Regions from separate parts of the Homo sapiens genome. Here regions 1 and 3 are each linked to region 2. The links come from fine-mapping of genetic effects on gene expression. A gene starts in region 2. Each other region holds a variant in brackets. All regions are shown on one strand. Distances are from middle to middle. Region 1 overlaps SLC38A4-AS1 (SLC38A4 antisense RNA 1). Region 2 holds the start of SLC38A4-AS1 (SLC38A4 antisense RNA 1). Region 3 overlaps SLC38A4-AS1 (SLC38A4 antisense RNA 1).

Region 1 (8,186 bases), 99 kb before region 2:
GATCCCTGCAGTGACTTCCTCTTGGGCAGGGCCACAGTCTGACTTGACTGTTCAGGCAATATGTGGCCTGGCTCTGCCCACCTCCCTGCCTCACCCCACATTCTCCCCCACCCACATGCCCTGGCTAGTGTGTCTTCTCTGTGCTTCCTCACATAATTCCAGTTCTCTTCCACCTCTGGGCTCTGCACATGCTGTTCCACCTGCCTGGTACTTCCTTCCCACCATCCTTTCCACCTGGTTAACTTCTACTTCAGGGAGAATAGAAGACAGCATTATATCATGGTGATTAGGACCCCAGGCTTTGGAATCAAACTGAGTTCCAAAACCCACTCCTCTACTCACCCACTGGGGGGTCCTAAACAAGTTATATACTGTATCTAAGCCTAAGTTTCTCACCTGTATGTTAACATGAGTCCATACTTCACAGAGATTATTCATAGAAAGCACTAAAATCTGAGACTGGCACATAATGCCCACTTCGTAAATGTCTGCAATTTTTTGTTAATCTTTTTTCCAGCCATGGGTCAATCATCACTTCATGAAGAAGCCTCTGCCCAGGTCACCACCCCTTCCTCTGCACCCGCAGTCTCCTTTTTTGCACCCAACACAGATTTACTTCTGCACTTACGTATGAGATTTTTAGAATACACCTGTCTTCTCCACCAGAAGGCTCATTGACAGCAGGATTCGCCTGCTTTGCTCGTGCAGAGAGCCCAGCCTCTAGCACAATACCTGACACAGAGTAGACACTCTACCAGTACTTCCTCAATGAAGGAATGAATGAATGAGCAAACCACAGTAGCCCAGCTGTGGTTAGAGTGGAAGTAAGCATATCCAGCTTGTCCTGTAAGCAACAGCCCAGTATTTGGTCATTTGGCCATTGCGTCCTTGCATTAGTGGGGGCCTGATGAGCAGTTTGTCATCTCATCTATGAATGCCAGTAAATCATTATCAGCAATATTTATTTTTTAAAAACTAGGCGAGCCTGAGGTAAAATTCATATTTTTGCAGGCCTCGTTGGCCAAGGACATTCGGTCTTCCCTGGCTGAGGCTGATGAAGATGATGACAGCAGAGATGATAATGTTGTAATTAACAAAGCTTATGAATATTAGCACATTAAACTCTAGAACACTTTGGTCTAATAAATGGGACATACAGAACAGAAGCTCCTGAAGGTCATCTCATATGCCAAGTGAGAAATAGGGAGAGAGCCCTGTCACTTGCTCTCTTTGGCGCATCTTAATTTCTGTGTTGTAGATACATACACACACGCCTCACCAGGTCCCTGTGCCTGGATGTGACCTTCCATGGTCTTCTGACTATTAACTGTGACATATGAAGTTCATGAGTCAGACCCCATAGTCTGCATCCCTGCTTATCACTACGTGACCTTCCCTCCCCTCAGGTCTCTTCCAAAGAAGACCACTGAGTTGGCTCACACTTTATTTTAGGGAATGTTTTCTGACTACTTCTCTTGGTGTCTGTTAATGGGCAAATATCAAATCCATGGGAAATTCCTACACAGTTCTCAACAAATATGAGGAAAAGCAAACGAAAGATCCCTATAACTCTTTATACATCGCCTTTACAGCATGTAAACCCTTTGATTAACATCTCCTGGCCGTGTGCAGTGGCTCACACCTGTAATCACAGCACTTTGAAAGGCTGAGGTGGGAGGATCACTTGAGCCCAGGAGTTTGAGACCAGCTTGAGCAACATAGTGAGACCAATATCAATCGAGAAAAATGACGAGACAAGTCTCAATCATTTTAGGAGGTTTATTTGCCACAGTTAAGGATGTATGCCCGGGAGACAGGTCTATGCCTTTCTCTGAAGATGATTCTGAGGGCTCCAAATTTAAAGGGGAAAGGGCAGGATATTCAGAAGTACACAATTTTCATGTAAGAGCGGGGGTAGGGAAAAATAGTCGTTCATGCCTTTGTCCGGCTCAGTGACTCTGCATTTTTTTATATAAGGTGATATAGACAAATGGGGCAGAGGAAAAATGCAGGGTATCTGTATTTTACATAAGATAACATAGACAAAATGGGGCAGGAGAACAATCAGATATGCCTTTGTGTCTGGTGGGCAGGGAGATGACTGCACCTGTAAGGATAAGCTATAAATTTACATTGCAATGGCGAAATTGTGAAATTTTAACAGAAACACCTTAAAAGATCTTGAAGCTCACTAGGAATTTCCTTGTGGGCAAAATATGGCAGAGATGTATAGCTTTTCATCTTGTAGCCATCTTATTTAGGAAGCAAAAAGGTGGAAGCAGGTTGCATCATCCAGTTCTCGGCCCAGCTTTTCCCTTTGGCTTAATGAGTTTAGGGTCCCAAGATTTCATTTCCTTTCACACCCCCATCTCTACAAAAAAAAATAAAAATAAAAATTAGCCAGGCCTGTACTAATAGCTAAGAGTACTAGCACGCACTTGCAGTCCTAGCTATTCAGGAGGCTGAGGTGGGAGGGTCCCTGGAGCCCAGGAGTTCAAAGCTGCAGTGAGCCATGATCACACCACTGCACTCCACCCTGGGTGAAAGAGCATGACCCTGTCTCTTAAAAAAAAAGAAAAAACCCTCCCTTTGCCTCTAATGACAAAACGGTCTTTCCCTTGGTGGAATAGCTTGGGAGCTTTGGGAAGACTGAATGCACAGTAGGTTCTGCATTGTCATTAGAATCTATGCTAAAGTTATCAATGGCCTTTATTTTATTGAGTACCTAGTAAATGTAGCAAACCAAAGGCCCGAGATGCATTTACTTTACTTGCCATTAAATTAGGCAGTAGCTTCAATGACATAAGGGTAAAATCTAATGAGCTTTGTACTCTTGTTAGAACAGGTAAGGAGAATTGAGGTCTCAGCATTCACAGATGATGTTATGGCCCTTTGTGTCCTAGGACTGTTTATCTTAGGAGCTCTGTTTGACCCCTGGCAGACTGTTGTCTTTAGCTGAAACAGTAAAGTGTGATTCACCACAATATGGTAATGTTGAGAAATCCAAGGAAAACCTTTCATTTCCAGAACTTAGTGACCCTTTTTGAAGAAATCTATTATTGTCTAGCAATTTTATTACAAAAGCACATTAGGGTTTAAAAATGTGAAGTGGGTGTGGAAAAAAAAGGCTTATGTAACATTAGACGCAAAAAAAAGATTATAAAGTCTTGTCTATGCTAAGA[T/C]TGTAACTATGTGAAAATTAGATAACATATTGACAGTAACTGGAAGGAAACATTAAAACAGCTGATTTTAGAATGGCAAGATAAGAGACTTTTTTCTCTTTTCTTTTTTTCTTGGTTGATTTCTGTTATTGTTGTTATAGTATTATTTGTACAATACAAGATTGTCAGCTAAACATGTATATTTTGCTTAAAATTATAATTCACTTATACTACAGACATTAAAAAATTATCCTCCACCTTAAAATCAAATATAGAAAATACGGAGCTTTGCTACCTTATCTTTAAAAACTATTATTTATTCTGTGAAATAAAAAAGGGAACAACTGCTAGCACAGTTCTTAAAACTAGCAGAAAACAATTTATCTCCTTCAGCATCACTGAAAACAGACTAAAAATTCTTATTTCTTTAATGAGAAATGGTAGAACAAAATAACTTATTATTAAATGTTCTTTCTCATTATCTAGTAGGCCAGAGAACATCTCTGAAAAAAAAACCACCATACATTTGAGAAATCTTTACTGGGGTTAAGCCAGAAAAGACTTCACCTTATATTTGCCTGGTGACTACCAGTGCTTAAAGACAGAGAATGCTGGCTGGTTTCTAACAACCAGAATTAAATCCCTAAATTATAAGTCTGAAAATTCAACTCAGAAAATAACCACACAGTTCCCCTGTTTCTTAGCCCTCTATTCAGTACTTAAACCCACAGGGACCTGTTGCCTATAAACAAAACTGAATATAGAATTAGGATAAATCTCACACGCAATGGGCATTTCCTGCTGTCCAGAAATCTCCATTTACTTTTTAAATAAAAGGACTCCTATCCATAAGAATTGGCTGCCTTTTCTTTTTGGTGTGTCATTAAAACTCAGGTCTTTCTTTGTATACCTTCCATGCAATTCAATCCAACAAAAATGCATCCAGTTGAGTGGCTTCCCAGACCTGTTAGGTCAACAAGCTCTACCAGGAGGCTATGGAAACACCTATTGGCCCTTGAACACTGTGTCTCATCCATTGGTTAGCATAGCTCATGCTGGACATCTAAACAGTTCAATCAGGAATTGCTGGACTGCGTGTTCCTAACCTTCCTCTTTGCATGACTGGTTATATGTGGTGAGAGTTATCAGTGGCAAAAAAAAGTAAGTCAAAGCTAAAATAATAAGCAATCTTCAGAGCAACAAATGAACTACCCATTATTAGTAAATTGACTGCCATGCTAAAAAGAGTGAATTCCATTCTAAGAGCAATGGGGACCAATGGGGAATGAATTTGAAAAGGAAGAGGATAATGTAACTTGGGTTTAGGATAAGAACTAAACCCAAAGGCAAGATGAATATAGATTACAGAGGACAGAAATAGGAATTGGGGAACTAATAAATTTCCCCAATTGGGTCAGTTGGAATTGGAATTGTTGAACTGACCCAAACCAAGGCAATGAGGGTAAGAATAGAAATGGGATAGATAATACTTTAAATGGATAAAAGGATGCAACAAATTTGATGCAGATTAATGAAGAAAAGCACAGTGTGAAGACAGTTAAGAAGACATTAGTGTTCCTAGCCTGGATTACTGAGTCTGAGTGATGCCATTAATATAATTGAGGAACTAAGGGGAAAAAATTGGTTTAGGGAAGAAGACAATGAGTTTGATTTTGGATATAATAGGTTGAAAGTGTCTTAGGGACATCCATGGGGAATGGCCCAGCAGACAATTAAGATATGCCAGGGCTAGAAAAGAACATTTAACAGTACAGACTTTGAAATTAAATCCTGGTTCTGCCACTTAGATTAAGTGGCCTTGTATGAGATATTTAAACTTCTGAACCTTCTATTTCTTTATCTAAAAAAATGAAGATAATTACATTGTAGAATTTTGTGAGCATTAAATAAGAAACGTGTGGAAAGCACTTACAATGTCTGACACATAATTAAGTACTAAAAATAAAAAATGATCTTCCATTGAACCACTGCAATAATCTCTTCCTATTCTGTTTCATACTTTGCCTCCTTCAGTCCACCTCTGCATGGCAATCGAAGAGATCTTGTCATAACAAAGATGAACTCCCCATCACTTCTCTGCTTAAAAATCCTCTAAGGTATCCCTCTGAACCATGGTCTGTAAGATCTGGCATTTCTATTCTTTGGCCCTTGACCATGCTAGTCTCATTCTACCCTCAGGGCCTTTGCCCTTGCTGTTCTCTCTGTCTGAAATGGTCTCCTCTAGATTTTTCAAGGTTGGCTTTTTTCATCCTTTTGCTGTTAGCTCATATGATACCAACTAATGGAAGCTTTTTGGTGATTGTTTCTTCATCTATCCCAGGTACCTTCTATCCTGTTATTCTGTTTTTATTTTATCTATAGAACATTACTATTTGAAATGAAAAATTTAAATATGTTTACGTGATGTTTTCTGTTCCCTCTGTTCAATAAGAATATCAGTTCCTTAACAGCTTGTCTGTCTTATTTCCTGCTCTATCCTCAGTACCTGGCATAGAGTAGTTTCTCCATAGTCATTGAATGAATGAATGAATGAATGCAAATATATGGAAGAATTGTGGACCCTTAAATATAAAGTGTGCATTTCACTTCCAGTAAGATGAAATAGTCTGATTCAGAAACATAAACTCATGATGTTGAGCTACTGTAATCTGGATGTCCCAATGAGGTAAGCCAATTAACCTCTCTGGCCCCCATTGTCCTTCTCACTGTAAAAGAATGAACAATTGCCACTCTCTTGCCCAAGACGGATGCAGTGAAGAATACATGAGATGAAATCTGGCATATGTCTGGAGTTTTACAAGAGGAAGACATTCTATTTAACTGTTCAACCCATCATAAAGATGACTGGCACAGGCCAAAATGGCATAATCAAAATCCCTAAAGTCACATCAAATCACTAGACTATGAATCCCCAAAATGTCCTGAAACAATAGTCTATCAGAATTTCCACTGAGCTACAATGATAATGTAAATCCCAGGATCACAATTCACTGTGGTAGTTCCTGAAATATTATGAAAAACAAGGCCACTCCCCAAATGGATTAGTAATCACAAAGAGAATGCAAAATGCCTCCTGACAAAGCATGATCAACACCTCAATTTCCAGACTCCTCGTGTCCCTCTCTCTGTGGACACCATCAATCAATGTCCCTTTGGTACACAGGAGCCCACTGCTGGAGCATTCGGTCAGCACCTACTAGGAGGCTTACTCTCAGAAAAGCTTTTTGACATACATCCAAACAAACTGAAGAAAATATTGAAGTCTTGAGCTCCATTTCAGGCCCAGCAAATGGAAGCTGGCCTTATAGGTGAACAGATAACGGCTCAGCTCAGGATGACTCTGACTTAAGCAACATCCCTCTCTGGTTACCCACCTTCTGTGAAGGCTCTATGAGAACAAAGAGATCCAGAAAGTTCATCATACCTGGTATAGAAATTAAAAGAATGAGTGTTTCACTTAGGTAGCCCCAGGTTATTTTGATTTTGTTGTTTAGCAGTTACATAACTTTGGGCAAGTTATTCTAAACTTTCAGGGGCTTCAGATTTTAATTTGTAATGTGAGGATAATACTGCCGGTCTTTAATTGGTTGTTTTAAGGATGAAAGAGATAGAATAAAATGTTAAGCATGCTCAACGAACACCAACTATTCATATGAACCAATAGCTAATAATAATCAATTATCATTAATACCTGAATCCAAGTTATTTCTCTTTAATTCATCCAGCAAATATTAATTGGGCATCTGCTTGATGACAGGATTTGTGTTAGAAGTTGGGGATGCACAAATGAACATGGTAAACTGATTCCTATCTTTGTGCATATTTGTAAATAGGTAATTATGGTATGGCATAATAAATGTTACCATGGGAAGAGTTCAGAGTGCACTGAGAGCAACCGGATGGAAAATCAAACATGGCCCAGGGAGTCAGGAAGGCTTCTTGGAAGAAGTGATGCTTAAGCTACGGATCAAGGAAGTCATCCAAAAGGTTGGGAGGATGGAGTAAAGAAAATCCTATGCAGAAGAAATACTATTTGCAGATAACTGAAGAATAGAGAGCAAGGCATTCTCAAGTTGCAGAAAATAGGTTTGCGTATGGCACAAAGTCTGGTAAAAAGGGGTTTTGCAAGTTCTTGTTAAAAAAGTTTTTACTTTAATCTGAGAACTACCTGAAACATGGTTAGATTCAAGCCAAAGAGTGGTTTGGATGTATTTATGTTTTAGAATAACTCTGGCTGCAGCGTAAAAAAAAATAGACTAAGCAAAGAAACCACTATGAGTCTATGAATTAAACAGATATCCTACAAGGATGTAGACCAGTGGACATATTCTACAGATATCTAGAAGGGACAATGACAATGACAGGACTTTGCAATTGATAGGAAGGTAGAATGAGGGAGAGAAAGGAGTGGAAAATGAACATCAGGTTAAATGGTAGTGCCACTCACTGAAATAGGAAGCACAGAAGAGGAACAACCTTTGAATGTTCAATACAGGATAAGCTGAGTTTGAAATGCCCACAGAGCTCTCAGGTGGAATATTCAGCAATAAGGTGATTAATCAGGCCCAATGATATGGTTCAGCTGTGTCCTCACCCAAACCCCATCTTGAATTATAATTCCCCTAATCCCCATGTGTCATGGGAGGGACTTGGTGGGAGGTAATTGAATCATGGGGGCAGTTACCCCCATGCTGCTGTTCTCATGATAGTGAGTGAGTTTGCACAAGATCTGATGGTTTTATAAGGGGCTTTTCCCTCTTTGCTCAGCACTTTTTTTTTTTTTAGACAGAGTCTCACTCTGTCACCCAGGCTGAAGAGTGCAGTGGCATGATCTCTGATCACTGCAACCTCCAGCTTCCGGATTCAAGTGATTCTCCTGCCTCAGCCACCCGAGTAGCTGGGATTACAGGTACCCACCACCATACCTTGCTAATTTTTGTATTTTTAGTAGAGATGGGGTTTTGCCAAGTTGGCCAGGCTAGTCTCGAACTCCTGACCTCAGGT
Region 2 (8,186 bases):
GCCTCAGTTGGGGATAATAACGATAATAGTACTGACCCCATAGGGTCATCATAAGGCTTAAATGAACTGATATATGCACCATGCTTAGAAGTGTTGTGAGCCATCATTCTCTTTGGCGCTATTCACCTACCTCCATTCCCCGTGGTTTGCTTGGTTTGGTTTGATTTGGTCTGGTCTTACTACTGCTGCCTCTCCGTTTGACTGGCAAAGTGTGACTGGCACTGCTTCACCAGGGGCTAAAGGCATAGCTGACGAGGCTCCTTCATAACCACAGCCACAAGTTCGCACTCCAGTGCTGCAGCACCCAGCTGTACTTTGAATTTGCCCTTCAGAGAGGCTCCATCAGCAAAAGTCAACTGGAAAATCAAAGCAAGCAATGCTAAGTTTTTTAAAAACACGCTATGTCAGATGAATTAGAATGTAAAGTAGAAACTCTAGCCTTCGGAATAAATCAATGAGAGGAAGGAAGTAGAGACAAAATGCAAGCAATTACATTCATTCCTTAAAAGAAAAGGTGGTATCTGCCCAAGCTCCCTCCAATTTGAACTATGTTTTCACAGCCTTCCATCTCCTTTTTAAAATCTCTCTTCAACATCCCAGAGCAGCCTCCTCCCACCTGGCCAAGAACCCTCAGGCCATCAACTTGCTTAAAAAAATATGATGGCCCAGATTCTGATCACGTGCACATGACTGACGGCCATTGGATCTTCCCAGGGAGTACTGAAGTTTTATGAGTATTATGATCATAATCCCCTGCATTTATATTAGTTTTCTTTCTAATCTATATTTTCACATAAATTTTTCTTTAATTCTTGGCACTCAGCATGCTGTTATTCCTATTTAACGGTTTAAAAAACTGAGGCTCAGAGAAGCTAGCAAACTTGTCCTAAGTCCCAAAACTTTGAATCAACGGAACTGAAACTGGAGTATAAATGAAATGGGAAAATTTTTAACGACTGAAGGACTGGGGGAAATGCACACAGCAGGGAGGGGCAGGCATGCTGCGGGGAGGCGGAACTAAGCTATTTTTGTCAGGGGGTTACTTAAGCAAATCTGCTCTACTGTGGAAATAACCTCAACTAACTCCCCCTGAGTTTTACACAGCCTCTTTATTGCCTCCACAGCTCAAAACTATACATTCTCTAATTCTAAGACTTATTTTTATTATTTTTAAATACTAATTTGTTCATACAATGGATATCCAGGTGGTACTGTTCTTAAGAGGATTTTAAAGAAGGTACACCCAGTATGTTTTATATTTAACCTATGGCTGCTTCTCAAGAGTGTTTGTAAATTGAGAACTGTCTGTATTGCATGTGTGATGTCATTAAATATATATTTGGTCTGTCCAAAACTATCTGGCATTTGTCCTTTACCAACATTACTGAGTATTTTAGTTTCTCAATCATGCGAGCTTAAAAAGCACAGCCAAATCTAATGAATGTCAAACTTGTGTAGTGACTCAAGTTGATTTCAGTATGTTTAAACAGAAAAAAAAATAGAACTCACAAAGGATCAACTGGAATGAGTATTCACTTTAAAGGAATGCAAAAAGGAATCCTTTTGAACCATTCATTCTCCTGAATATGTTTAAATGTGCATTAATTTAGGTACAACTGCTAAGGAAAACTGTTTATCATATACGAAATATTTCCTCATTAAAAGTAATGGCAAAAACCGCAATTACTTTTGCACCAACCTAACAGCAGACACTTTGAATATGAGTGTAATGTTCTTTGTATGTAACAATGCTAATGCTAAGCTATCTCAAATATCTTCTTTTACCTGTTTTTTTTCCTTCGGTAACTTATCAGCCCTGTCCAATAACAGTTCCTACAATAATGGAACTATCTGTCAGTGCTGTCCATTTTTGAATGAATTAATAAAATTAATTTTATTTAAGTAGTCACATGTGGCTACTGAGCAATTAAAATGCCCTATTGAAGAACTTAATTGTCAATTTTATTAATTTTAATTCATTCAAATAGCCATGTGGCCAGTGGTTGTGTATTGGACAGAGCAGTTATAAGATCTCCTTCAGCCAAAAAAAAAAAAAAAAAAAAAAAACCTATGATTTTATCATTCTATCATTGTGAGGCCAGAATTAAGGCTGTAGTTATTAAACCTCTGATTATTAATTGGATGCTGAAATACAGTTAGCTAACTGAACACACAATTTTAAAGAGGCTGTTTTTGTTCTTAATAAACATCAAAAAAACTATTATGTGCAAAATAACATGTGGGTAAGTAGGATATACACAGACCAAGATTGAACAGACATTTCCTGACGGGGACATTGCTCTCCCAGTTTCTGCTAAATTCCAATTCAGTACATCCTAACAAGACATGGCTGATCAATTGTGTAAGCTCATGCTTTTAACAAGTATTGCTTAGCTCAATAACTCCCATAGCTCTAGGACAAACAACTGTCCTGAGCCCTGGGGACACGCTGTTGCACTCTGTTGAGCCTGACAGAATGCCTGCTCTTCCAGGCACTTACTCTCCTGGGAAGCACAGCCAGGTGAACAGGCCACGAGAATACACCGTGGTCAGTACCACTACAGGGGCAGACCTTGGGTGCCACACGAACACACAAAAGGAGCTTCTAACCCAGTCTTGGCTGGACAGGGAAGGTTTCAAGTGCAGAAAAGAAGGTTCCAGAAGGAAAAAACCAGTAGTATCTTGCTATCAAATCTATCCATTATTTAGGTTTCTTTGGGAAATTTCCTTTTCATTTGGCATTATGTCATCGTCCTTTCAAGGGTATTCACTTTTTGAATACATTTCAATCGATATATATTTATCGAACCCTGAAGACTAAAAAGCCTCATCGTCATTCTCCTGGAGGATTCACCATTTGCTCGGGGCTAAAGGTGTATGAAGACAAACCTTTCTCCTGAGAAAAAAAATGAGTTCTTAGGTCAAATATTTCAATAATCTACCCTTTAAGAAAAATGTAACACTGCCTTGGAATGCATGATTTCTTCATAAGACTTCCTTTTTACAATTGTGTGTGGCTTTCTACCCAAACTAACTTTAAACATCCCTCCACAATAAAATTCAGGAAGGCCACTTTAATAAAACGAGGGGGAAAATCCCACCAAAATGTAAACTTAATATTTCAACACAATTAAATTTATTAATAAAGAATTTCTATTGCATAGTGAACAAAGCATTGGATTTACCTGACAGTTTGGGGTCAAATTCCAGTTCCTCCTCTTAGAGAAGGAATGGCCTTGGGCGAGTTATCTAACTTCTCCAAGCATCAGTTTCCTCATTTGTAAAAGGTCAATAATGGGGTAAGAATAGCCCCTACCTCAGAGTTGATGAGAGAAATGAATATGCACACATTTACAAAGACCTTAAAGTAGTGCGTACCCTAAGCCTTATATGAAGATTATTATTCTTTCTAATTACAATAATTCTAATTGCAGAAATCTATGCGAAAACAATACACAGTTCTGGCCAAAAGAAGTTAAAACAAATGTGAAAAATAAGCGACATCCAGAAACTTCAGCAGCTCCCTTCTGTCCTATGCCTCAAGGTACCAGAGAGGGAAAAAGACCCCCAGGAGAGGCTGTGAGGAAACCTGAACTGCAAACCCACCACGATGTCTTCCTGGGAAAGGCAAGTTGGTAAAGAAAGATGTGAACTCTATTTCAGGGTAGTATGTTTTTTTCATTTGCTTCCAAGACTTTGATGGAATGACTTGAGAGGAAAAGTTCACAATTACTAGAAAGAACCTAAAAGGACATGAGAGATGAAACCGTTGCAGTATTTTTGAAATAAATGTTTTCCTGCAAGAGCAGAGTCATGGGCGGGGTGTCTGTGTAATATCTACTCAACACAGCCGAAGGGTAAGAGGAAATCTTGGTAAGCCGACTTCCAAGTCTTAATGGGGAACCATACGGAACCAACTGCACGCCAAATCCCACGCTCACCGAAGCTTCAGGGATTTTCTTGTGGGTCTGGGGGTTTAATCTGACAGCTCCTAGAGCCTTCAGGACTTCCCGGGCACAGATAATGGGCCGCGACTGCACCCCCGCGTCCCTCCTTGGGGCGCAGGCTTTCCACAGCTACAGTTCTCCACGTCAGCAGCCACGTACACAAGCGCCGGCAGCTGCCAACAGGGCGTGCCCGCTTCCAACCCTGCACTCTCCCAAGCAGGACATCCCTGCACCGCCCGGCGCGTTCGCGAAAACTCCGCGGGGCCTCGAGGCGTCCCGGGATTAGCCCTGACGCTGTAGGGCTCTCTAGGTTTTCCACGACGCAGGGGAGCGTAACTGGAGCGCACCCGACAGCCTCTCAGCTTGCCCAGGCTCGACTGGATGGGGCTTTGCTGGACCCCCGACCCGACCCCCACACACCCGGGCGGCGGGGCCCAGGTACCTGCCAACGCCTCCGCACCTCATCGTCCCCTCTGCTTCCCCTCCTCCCTCTCCCCGAACCCTTCCCCCCTCCTCCCCGCCTCCTCCCCGCCTCCTCTTCGCCTCCTCCTCCACCTTCTCCTCCCCCCGACCCCTGCTCCCACTCTTGGCTCCAAGTCCGCGCGCGGGCTGGGGAGGCGGTGCCGAATGAATCACCGTCACGTGGGTCGCGGGCGCGCAGAGGCGGGCTGCGCCCGGGCGGCTCTGGCGCTCGGAGCGTTAGTGGAAAATTTCCGGAGATCTACTGGGGCTGCGCGCCGCAGGCCCCGCCCGCCGCCTCCCCGCTCCTTCGTATCCCCACCTCCTTTTCCCCCTCCCTCCTCCTTTTCTCTCTTCCCCCGCCGTTTTCCGGTCGCAGCCGGGCCCCGACATTGCGGAGGTTCCTTTCTCTCCGGGGAGCGGCGCTGCGCACGCCCCGCCCGCTGCAGCGCCCCAGGCTGGCGCCGCCAGACCCCTTTGCCCTGGGGCCGCCAGCCCTCGCTTCCTTCGCGCGGCTCCAAGCCGCCACGCGGCCTTGCCCCCGACCTTGCGTGTAGCCTGCTGGTATCCTGAGAGGCCAGGAGCGGCGTCCTGGCGCCTCCGCCTTCGCCTCTGGGGCGCCGCACCCCCGCCACCTCCGTTCCGCATTGAGTGAGACCCCCCACATCTCCGGGCGGAATGTGAGACAAAGGGAGAAGACGGTGACGATGGGCGTCTTGTCTTCTCATTTAGAATTACTGCACCGCCGTTTAAACAAAGCACATGCAAGGCCAATTGTGTTTTACCCACTCCCACTTAACCACTGAGAAAATAAGCTATTTTCTCTATCCCATAACATTCTCCACTTCGTTTTCCCAACCACGAACAAAATTTATTCCTGAGACAGCAACTTTGAGGATTTCGTTGACCTCATCCATGTAGAAGTGACAAATGGTTACACAACAAAATTGTTTCACTCAAAGGGGGTTGTTGTGTACGTGGTTCACCTCAATAAAACACACATTTAACTGTTTCAGCAACTGTTTAGCCCTGGACTGTCGCCCGGGTTAATGTCGCTGAATGGGGTGGGGGGTTGAAAAGTGGCATTAGCGCCACGTGTCCCAAGACGAAGTGACATGGAACCGGAGGCAGGTGCCTTAATCAGTCACGAAGTGCCAACGATGTCAGTCAAAACAGTTGGGAGTTTTATTGAGTAAAGATCTCAGAACCAAGCCCATATATTAAATGGTTCCCATCTAAGAACCAGAATTGCAGGTGTGTTAATTTTAATAAATCGTTATTTCAGTATCTTAGCCCTGGGCAAAGAAAGATCCGGAAACTGACTGAAGGCCAGGAATGTAGGTTCATCGTGGCCTACGAGTGCTTTGGGTAGCACACCTTCTTTCAGTCACTGTCATTTCTCTTTAGACAAGAAGACCCCTAACAAGTATTAAAATAAAGGTATTTTTTAATGATCCTGTTTTGGAAAATTGTAAGGATCTGAAATTTTTAATTTTTTAAAACAATGGAGCACTTCAATAAAACTTCTATTTTCTTTACTAAGAATATACACAGCTTGTTTTTTAGCTTAATTCTTGATTGTTGCTGTGACCTTACCACATTCTGAATAACCTTAAGCATGTATATGAGAATCGTATCTGTGATTTTGCTTTCACATTTCACTTTCCAAGACACTTATTGGTAATTAGCAGGTGTCAGTTTACCTAGCCAAAGAACCATTGTCTATAAATCCTTCATCTCTCTGCCATTGTTTTCTTTCACATTCATTGGCATATACTACACCTAGCAAAATAGACCATTCCAGGGTCAAATGAAAAGGCCAACAGGTAAGTATCACAAGAAGGTCATTAGTCAAGCCGTTATTTCCCCTCTTTTATTTGGGAAGGAGATGGGAGAAACAGAGTTCTGATACTAGGTCCCTGGAAAGTTCTTCAGTCTTGACAGAATTGGGTATGTTTGTACTAAAGTATCTGTAAAACTAAATTTTTTTAAATTTTTTGTTGTTGTTTTGAGACGGAGTGTTGCTCTTGTCGCCCAGGCTGCGGTGCAATGACGCGATCTTGGCTCACTGCAACCTCCGCCTCCCAGGTTCAAGCAATTCTCCTGCCTTGGCCTCCCAAATAGCTGCGATTACAGGCGCCTGCCAGCACACCCAGCTAATTTTTGTATTTTTACTAGAGACGGGGTTTCACCATGTTGGCCAGGCTGGTCTCAAACTCCTGACCTCAGGTGATCCGCCTGCCTCGACCTCCCAAAGTGCTGGGATTACAGACATGAGCCATCGCGCCCAGCCATATTTCTAAATTTTTTTAAGACTGAGTTTCTGTGGGCCCCTTAATTTTCTTTTTCTTGCTGAAAAATGAGGTATGCATTTACAAAATACTGATGCTTGCAAATATATGGATTTACAATATAATATATTTTTTAGGCATTACTATGTTTTCCAGTCCTGGCCAGTGGGATCTGAGACAACAATAACAGCATTTCCAGGAAATGTTATCTCTCAAAATAAAATTAACTCACAAAATGACGCTCCTTTCTTTTGCAATGGATGTGGTCCTGTCTGCCTATGACCCCTAAAACCACTGCAGCCAACATGTGACCATGATGGGAGAGATCCCCAGCATGTTGAAGAAAGCAAAGTGAAAATATAATGAGCTCTTTGTCTTGGAGGGAGGTATCAGGGCCAAGAATTAACCCCAGAACTGTGCTCTCTACATACTTCTTATTATGTGAGATAGTGTCATTATTTAAGCCACTTTCAATTGCATATTGTGTTTATTGCCATAAAATGTTTTCTGGCTGGGCACAGTGGCTCATGCCTATAATCCCAGCACTTTGAGAAGCTGAGGTGGTGGATTGCTTGAGCCCAGGAGTTTGAGATCAGCCTGGGCAACTTGGCTGAAACCTGTCTCTACAAAAAATTAGCCTAGCCAGACGTGGTGGCCTGTGCCTATAGTCCCAGCTACCCAGGAGACTGAGGTGGGAGAATCACCTGAACCTGGGCTCTCTGATCACACTGCTGCATTCCAGCCTGGGCGACAGAGTGAGACCCTGTCTCAAAGTAAAATAAAAATAAATAAATAAATAAATAAATAAATAAATAAATAAATAAAATAAAATAATAAAATAAAAATATTCTTGCTGCTGACAACTTCTCTGTGGTAGCCAGCCTCCAAAATGGCCCCCAGTGATGCTTACCTCCTGGTATGCACTCCCTTGTGTAGTCCCCTTCTATGTTGAATCAGGGCTTGCCTTTGTGACTGATAGAATATGGTAGAAATGATAAAGTGTGACTTCCAAGGCTAGTTCATAAAGGCATTGCAGCTTCTGCCTTGCTCTTTCTTGCTAACTTGCTCTGGGATAAGCCAGCTGCCATGTCATGAAGACATTCAGTCAGGGTTGTGCAGACACCTTCTTGGAGAGGAAGCAACCAGCCAGCACCAACTTACCAACATGTGAATGACCTTGGAAGATCTTCCAGCCCCAGTCATGCCATCAGATGACTAGAGCCCTCTCACAGCTGACTGCAACCTCATTAAAGACTTAAAGCCAGAACACCCAACAGAGCTGCTCTTGAATTCCTGATTCATAGACACTTCGAGAGATAATAAATTATTGTTGCTTTCAGACACTAAGTCTTGGAATAATTTGTTACATAGCAATTGATATCTAATAGAGTATCTGTCAACACCAGAAAAACATGCCAAAGTCAGCAAAGCACTCCCAGAGTCCGTACTGTTGCTTTAGACTTGAGAGCTATCTTACAAGATTGAATAC
Region 3 (8,186 bases), 32 kb before region 2:
CCATCTGGTCCAGGGGTTTTTTTGCATGGTAGGTATTTTATTATTTATTCAATTTCATTCCTCGTTAATGGTCTGTTTAGGATTTCTATTTCTTCTTGTTTCCATCTTGGGAGGTTGTGTGTTTCCAGGAATTTCTCCATTTCCTCTAGATTTTCTAGTTTATGTGCATAGAGATGTTCATAGTGTCTCCAAGGATCTTTTGTATTTCTATGGAATCAGTGATGATGTCACCTTTCTCATTTCTAATTGTGCTTATTTGGATCTTCTCTCTTTTTTGAGTCTAGTTAGCAGTCTATCAATCTTGTTTAACCTTTCAAAAAACCAATTTTTCATTTCATTGATCCTTTGTACTTTTTCTTGGGTTTCAATTTTGTTTAGTTCTGTTCTAGTTTTAGTTATTTCTTTTCTTCTGCTAAGCTTTGGGATTAGTTTGCTCTTGTTTTTCTAGTTCCTTTAGATGCAAGTTTAGGTTGTTAATTGAGATCTTTGTATCTTCTTGATGTAATCATTTAGTGTTGTAAACTTTCCTCTTACCACTGCTTTTGCCATATGCCAGAGGTTTTGGTATGTTGTGTCTATTTTCATTGTCTCAAAGAATTTTTTTATTTCTGCTTTAACTTCATTGAAGTCATTCAGGAGCAAGTTATTTAATTTCCATGTATTTGTGTAGTTTTGAGTGTTCCTCTTGGTATTGATTTCTATTTTTATTCCACTGAGATCTAAGAAGATACTTGGCTTGATTTTCAGGTTTTTAAAAAAATTTATTGAGACTTGCTTTATGACCAAGCATGTGGTCAATCTTAGAGTATGTTCTATCTGCAGATTAGAAGAATGCATTCTGTGGTTGTTGGGTAGCGTGTTCTGTAGATGTATATATCAGGTCCAATTGGTCAAGTGTTGAATTTAAGTCCAGAATTTGTTAGTTTTCTGCCCCAATGAGTGTCTAATGCTGTCGGTGGGGTGTTGAAGTCCACCACTACTATTATGTGGCTGTCAAAGTCTTTTCTTAGGTCTAGAAGTAATTGTTTTATAAATCTGGGTGCTCCAATGTTGGGTGCCTATTTATTTAGAGTACTTAAGTCTTCTTGTTGAATTCAAGCCTTTATCACTATGTAATGCCCTTCTTTGTCCTTCTTTACTGTTGTTGGTTTAAAGTCTATTCTATCTGATACAAGAAGAGCTCCTCTTTTCTTTCCATTTGTGTGATAGATCCTTCTCCATCCCTTTACTTTGAGACTCTGGGCATCATTATATGTCAAATGGGTCTCTTAAAAACACTAGAAAGGTGCATCTTTTTTTTTTTTAATCCAATTTGCCACTCTATATATTTTAAATAGAGTATTTATGCCATTTATGTTCAAGGTTAATATTGATAGGTGAGGTTTTGTTCCTGTCACACTGGTGTTAACTAGTTGCTCTGTAATCACAATTGTGTAGTTGCTTTATAGAATCTATGAGTTATGTGCTTGTGTCTGGTTTTGTGACAGCAAGTATTGTTCTTTTGTTTCCTTGTTTAGAATTCCTTTAAGGATCTCTCGTAGGGCCAGTCTGGTGGTGATGAATTCCCTTAGCGATTGAAGATCAAGGAAAGACTTTATTTCTCCTTGATTTATGAAGCTTAGTTTGGTGGGATATGAAATTCTTAGCTGGCATTTATTTTCTTTAAGAATGCTAAAAATGGGCCTGCAATCTCTTCTGGTTTGTAAAGTTTCTGCTGAGAAGTCCACTGTTAGTCTGATGGATTTCTCTTTACAGGTAATACGACTCTTTTGTCCAGCTGCCTTTAAGATTTTTTTCTTTTCCATGACCCTGCGTAGTCTGATAACTATGTGCCTTGGGGATGGTCATTTTATATAGTATCTTGGAGGAGTTCCATGGATTTCTTGTCTCTGCATGTTGATCTCTCTAGCAAGATTGGGGAAATTTTCCTCAATTATATCCTTGAATATGTTTTCCAAGTTGCTTACCTTCTCTTCTCAGAAATGCTAATAAGTTACAGATTTGGTTGCTTTACATAATCCCATATTTCTCAAAGCCTTTGGAGAACAGTTTTTCTTTACTTGCATGTTTTGTTTTGTTCTGTTTTGTTGTAGTGACAGGTTTGGTTGTGTTCATGTTTAACAGCTTATATCTGCTTTCGGTCAAGCAATTAGCCAGGGAGACTTTGTTAGAGAATGTGCACATAAAGAAGTTAACCTAGCCAGCCAGGTGTGGTGGCTCATGCCTGTAATCCCAGCACTTTGGGAGGCCAAGGCAGGTGGATCACCTGAGGTCAGGACCAGCCTGGCCAACATGGTGAAATCCTGTCTCTACTAAAAATAGAAAAAATTAGCCAGCTGTGGTAGTGGGCGCCTGTAATTCCAGCCACTCAGGGGCTGATGCAGGAGAACTGCTTGAACCCAGGAGGCAGAGGTTGCAGTGAGCCAAGATCACACTATTGCACTCCAGCCTGGGCAACAAGAGTGAAACTCTGTCTAAAGAAAAAAAAAGTTAACCTCATCATACAACTTAGCATCACCATTATTTAATATTGTTTAGAGATATGTGCAGATAAAATGATTGCTTAGCTGGAGAACTCAAGAGAATCAGCTGAAAAACTATTACAAATAGTGAAAGAATCCAGCATGGGGCCCAGGTAAGAAATATAATATGGAAAAATCAATACTATTCTTACATTTGAACCACAACCAGAAGACATAATAGAAGGAATCATTCTATTCACAAAGAGGGCAAAAAGATAAAAAATTCCAAGAGACAAACTTAACAGTAATTTTTTTAAAGACTGAAGCAAATTGAATTATGTTTTTCATTTTAAAGACTTGGCATCTTAGGCCCGGTGCGGTGGCTAATGCCTGTAATCCCAGCACTTTGGCAGGCCGAGGCGGGCAGATCACTTAAGGTCAGGAGTTCAAGAACAGCCTGGCCAACATGGTGAAACCCAGTCTCCACTAAAAACACAAAAATTAGCCAGGAGTGGTGGTGGATACCTGTAGTCCCAACTACTCGGGAGGCTGAGGCAGAAGAATTGCTTGAACCTGGGAAGCAGAAGTTGCAAGGAAACGAGATGGAGTCACTACACTCCAGCCTGGGTGACAGAGCAAGACTCCACCTCAAAAAAAAAAAAAAAAAAAAAGATGTTGATTCTTTCAGAGCTATTTTATAAATACTCTATTGTGAATCACATCCCCAAAATTATTAGTAGGATTTTCAAATTAAACAAGTTGATTTTAAAGTTCCTACGTAAATCTAAAAAAGCAATAAGAGCCAGGAAAAAGCATCTAGGGAAAAATAAGAAGATGAATGAGGAAGGACTGATAATACCAATTATTAAAATTGGAGAGACAGAGAAGGAACAAAGAGAGGGAGGGAAGGAGGGAAAGGAGAAAAAAAGAAACCCTACCTTTTATAACTGCTATCTAGGAAATACATTAAGTGAACTTTTTAATATAAATATATTACCTTTCCCCTCCTCTCCACCTCACTGATATACAAATACCTCGTTAACTTAACGGAATAAATGAGCAATTATAAATGGAATAAATGAACAACTAACAAGTAGCTTTTAATCTTAAATTAAGCACAATTTTAATAAAACTAGGAAATATAAAATCTACTAAAATCCTTAATATAATCCCTGGCACATAGAGGCACGCACTCAAGAAATATTTGTTGAATAAATAGTAAGTAGTAGAGATATTTGGTAAATTGTCTTTTGGAGTCCTAATGCCACTGAATGGATTTAGACATTATGCTAATATGTGGGATTTTTTTAAAGGTAATTAATTAGTATTATTTTTTAAACTCAATTTTGAAAAGCTGAAATTATAGGAATCAGGACCAAAAGTTTCAATTCAAAAGTAACGAAAAAAGGAAATAAATTTTATATTTTTAAGTAAATATAGCAAAAATATTCTAATTGTTCTCCTGTGGTCACTTGGTCATACAAAATCCCCAAAATGTATTATAAAAAGACACATCATTCATTGTAGCATTATAATTATAGCAGCAAAAGTCTAAAAAAAAACCCTAAATATCCATCAATGGAGGACAGATTCTGAACAAATCCTGGTACATTTATGCAATGGAATACCATTTAGTTATTTTAAAAAATAAAGTAGATCTCTGTGTGCTGATGTGGAAGAACCAAGATATCTTGTTAACTTTCAAAAAGCATGGAGCTGAACAAGGAGCCATGGAATGCACCTTACCAGGGGCTCTCGAGTCAGTGTGTAAGGCTAAAATTTAATATAATCCTAATGTCCCTCAAAGATCCCCCAGGGTAATGCCAGTTTGGAAGCATTACGAACACTCCCTCAGTAAATGTTGCACAGAGCTAGTGTTTCCTTTGGCACTAAAAGGCTCTTGTATTTCTTCATTTGCACACCAGATGAAGCTGGCTCGCACAGGGACCACGTTTGTGATAAATACAGTCTTTAAAAGTTAGCCTCTATCCAGCCTTAAAAATGAAGGAAATCTAACCATTTGCTACAACATGGATGAACCAGGAGGACATTATCCTAAGTGAATTAAGCCAGACACAGAAGGCCAAATACTGTATAATTCCACTTATATGAAGTATCCAGTCAAACTCATGGAAACAGAGAGCAGAAGGGTTTCTGGGGGCTGGGAGAAAGGGGAAATTGTGAGGTGCTACTCAATAGGTATAAACCTTCAGTTATATAAGACAAATGAATTCTAGAGATCTGCTGTACAACACTGTGCCTATATTGTATTGTATTGTATACTCAAAAATCTGTTAAGAGAGCAAATCTCACATTAAATGTGAGACCTACAGGCACAATGGCATATGCCTGTAGTCCCTGCTACTCAGGAGGTTGAGGCAAGAGTATAGCTTGAGCCCAGGTGTTTGAGTCCAGTGTGGGCAATATAGCAAGACCCTGTCTCTAAAAAAAAAAAAAAAAAGAAAGAAAGATTAAAAAATGTTTTTACCACAGTAAAATACACTTTAAAAAAAAAAAAAAAAAA[G/AAG]CTAGCCTCACCCCAGGCTCAGGGCTGTGCATGCTAAGAGTGAGTCCAGCTAAAGGAGCAACATGCTGGTGTGACTGTCTCCTGCTCAGTCATCAAGTAGAATGTCATGTGGATCAGCAGCATTGATTCTTTCCTGCTTTGGTTTGTTTTGTTTTATACTATTTTTGTTTTGTCACATATATGCATTACAATAATATAAGTCAATTCACCTATAGAACATCTCCACTGTAAAATTCTCCTATTTGTGTAAAATAAATAAATAAAAGAACACATATCCACAAATATACCCAGCTATACACAGATTTTTCTGGAGGTACATTCAAGAAACTGGAAATACAGGTTATTTTTGCCAAGAACAACAAGGAATCTGGAGAACTGGAGTCAGAAGACATTTTGCACTCTAATATTTTTGTATTACTTGAATTTTATCATGTATATGAATTACTTTTTTAAAAAACCTACCAGTAAAAATGCCGTGTTTAAAAATAAATAAAATCTAATGATTTAAGATATAAGTGTAGACTAAATACCTACTTACCTCCCACTAATAACAACTTACTCCATCTCTAATTCTTAACCTTTGGGGGTCTTATGGAATCTTTGGAAATTTGGTAAGAACTACAACCTTTTCCCCAGTAGAAGACATATACATACACATATAACCATGAAGTCCATAAATTTAAAATTTATAGCTGTTGTACTACAACATTTATCTGTGGGATTCTTGCCAAAAATGTTTAACCTGAATCTATTCATGAAGATATAATCTGATGAATCAAACATATGGGGCATTCTTCAATACAACCAGCATAGACTCAAAAAATTCCATGTCATAAAACAAAGGAAACTAAAAACATAAATCCAAAAAGACTAAGAGACACAACAACTAAGTACAATGTAAGAATATTGGTCAAATCATGAATCAGGGAGGGAAAAAAACTATAAAAGATATATTTGAAACAATAAGAGAAATCCAAACTCTGGATTCTGTATTAGATGATATCATGGAATTATTATTTATTTTATAAGTGTAATGATGCCGTTAAACAACTGAGGGGTGAAAAGTCATGATGTCTGCAACTTATTTTTATGGTTCAAAAAAGTATACCCAGGGATAGTGCAAATGAATGTGACTAAAGGTTAACAACTGCTGAAGCTACATAAAGGGCATATGGGTACCCACTGTACTATTTTTCTAACTTTCCTGTAAGCCTGAAATTTTCCTATATATAAAGTTGAAGGCAAAAAAAAAATGCTAAAAAAACTTCACTCTCCTATAAAACTTCACTCTCCTATAATTCTAACACAGCACCCACCACCAAATTTCCCCTCTCCCACTTACTCTTGTGGCTTTCCATCTCCTTCTTTCTTGCCAAGAGGAAATCTAGCACTTGATTTGTTTCTTCCAAAATTATTATGAAGCATAAACAATGTCTCAACTTGGACTGTCTCTTTTTTTGTGTCTCTCTTGGTTAAGCTACGAGCTTGGTGAGAGAGGTCAGGAACTACACTTTTGTCGTCTTTATAACCCCAGTGTCAGAACACAATAAGAAGAGTCAATAAACATGAGGTGAACTGAAACTTTGGACCAGTTCACTGAACTTTAGTACCTATTGTGCTATTCTTTAGCAAATTGGGTAACAGATAATATGGAAGGATTTTTTAAAATGCTGAAACTAAACCACTAAAATAAAATACTAGAGTTACTTCTTCCTTGAGTATGGAGAAAATGAGCCTTGCTTTTAAGAAGCTATGTACCACATTAGCAAAAGTCTGGAAATACAAAGCACACTCAAAATTAATAAAGTTAAGATTTTCACGCTGCCATTTGTGCAAGTCACTGGCTTTATCTGACTTCTACCTGTTAGTTTTTTTATTCTCTAATTCTATATTGACAACATTTTCTGTGATGATGGAGGTGAAGAGCCTGTCACTGGCAACATAGCACCATCCTCGTTTAGAGTAAATAAAACTATTTAAAGCAAATTGGAAACTGAATGACAGAAAGTGCCACAGATGGACCACACTGGGAACAGGAGTGGAATGCCGCGTTGTTCATCATCCCCACCATCCAAGAATGAAGTTGGCAACAAAATGCTGGCAGTAGACCAGAGTGGACCATCACTGTGTATACAAGACAATCCAAATGAATTGTACTATCCTTTGAGATTAAGAAGAAGCTCATGGACTTTCCACTAAAATAAAAATCAAATCTATCAATTGCCATTAGTGTTTCGCTTTTTAAAAAATGTTTCCCCTTAACTTGAGTCATTATTGCTCATTATTTTTTCCTCTTTCTTTTCATGTACCTTCTTTTCTCTTTGGAGATGTCTCTAGAATGGAAATACATGGAACTCATCCAATTGACACTTAAATTCTGTAACCTCTATGATACAAAGTTACTTCGTTTACCATAAAGCTTAAGCGCCCCAATGCAGACTCTTTATTAAAGTCATGATAATTCAGAAACTGAGTTGGATTTAAATAAAAGTATTGCTAAAAGCATCATGAATGGCAAAAGTCTGAGGACTTCTTTCTTTCTAGGGTGAAAGGACCAAAGGTTAACACTTTGCTGCCTACCTATAGAAAATTGCTTATTCTTTTAAAGACCAAGTATTCCTTTGTCCTGTTCTCCTTCTTGCTATTAATCCAGGAAGACATCAGAGGAGAATGAAAGAAGAAAGGTTTATGAGAACCGAGCAGTGCTCAGACAAGAACTCTACCCACTGAAGTCAACTGGGTAATTTACATTTACCTATGCAGTAGTAGGTCTACCCAGCCTTGCTCTGCATAAAATGTGTACAACTCTCCCAAACTGATGTATGACCTGTTGCATAATTACCCCTCATTACATAATTGATCTTACCTCCTGCGATTCCTTTCCCTATAACCACTATTCATTGCTCCGAGCCTGGAAGATCAGATATTCAAATTTACCAGCTCAGGCTCCATGTTCCTACCGGAACTCTTGACCTGGTTACAGGAAGGAAAAATAGTGACACACTTTTCACTGCCTAAATGTTTCAGCCCCATTTCTTTCTGATTTGAGAGCCCACTGAAATCCATTATCTTGGTTAAGCTTAAAAAAAAAAAAAAAAAAAAAAAAGAAGAAGATACCTGTGGCTGGGGTAATAGCGGGGTATACTGGCTCAAGATGGGTTGTACCAGAAATAATTGGTGATGCAAAATATATTCCCTAT

The links. PIP is the estimated chance that this variant, and not a neighbour inherited with it, causes the effect.
Region 1: its variant is the best candidate, but not a certain one, in a credible set for the expression of SLC38A4-AS1 in whole blood (INTERVAL, PIP 0.86).
Region 3: its variant is the best candidate, but not a certain one, in a credible set for the expression of SLC38A4-AS1 in lymphoblastoid cells (GEUVADIS, PIP 0.84).

The regions. Positions count from the first base shown.
Region 1 is chr12:46,478,643-46,486,828 of GRCh38, reverse strand. The region is part of intron 3 of SLC38A4-AS1 (SLC38A4 antisense RNA 1); the gene reads right to left. All of the region lies in intron 1 of LOC124902923 (a long non-coding RNA gene), which reads left to right. Among named protein-coding and RNA genes, the nearest start is that of SLC38A4-AS1, 99 kb to the right of the region's middle. The variant T/C (reference allele first, on the strand shown) is at 3,183.
Region 2 is chr12:46,379,917-46,388,102 of GRCh38, reverse strand. SLC38A4-AS1 (SLC38A4 antisense RNA 1) reads right to left here and starts at 4,427. Exons shown (of 4, transcript NR_125380.1): 1 at 4,408-4,427; 2 at 131-356. RefSeq lists enhancers at 1,361-1,862, 4,556-5,063 and silencers at 4,422-4,491, 4,642-5,001.
Region 3 is chr12:46,411,923-46,420,108 of GRCh38, reverse strand. All of the region lies in intron 2 of SLC38A4-AS1 (SLC38A4 antisense RNA 1), which reads right to left. Among named protein-coding and RNA genes, the nearest start is that of SLC38A4-AS1, 32 kb to the right of the region's middle. The variant G/AAG (reference allele first, on the strand shown) is at 4,987.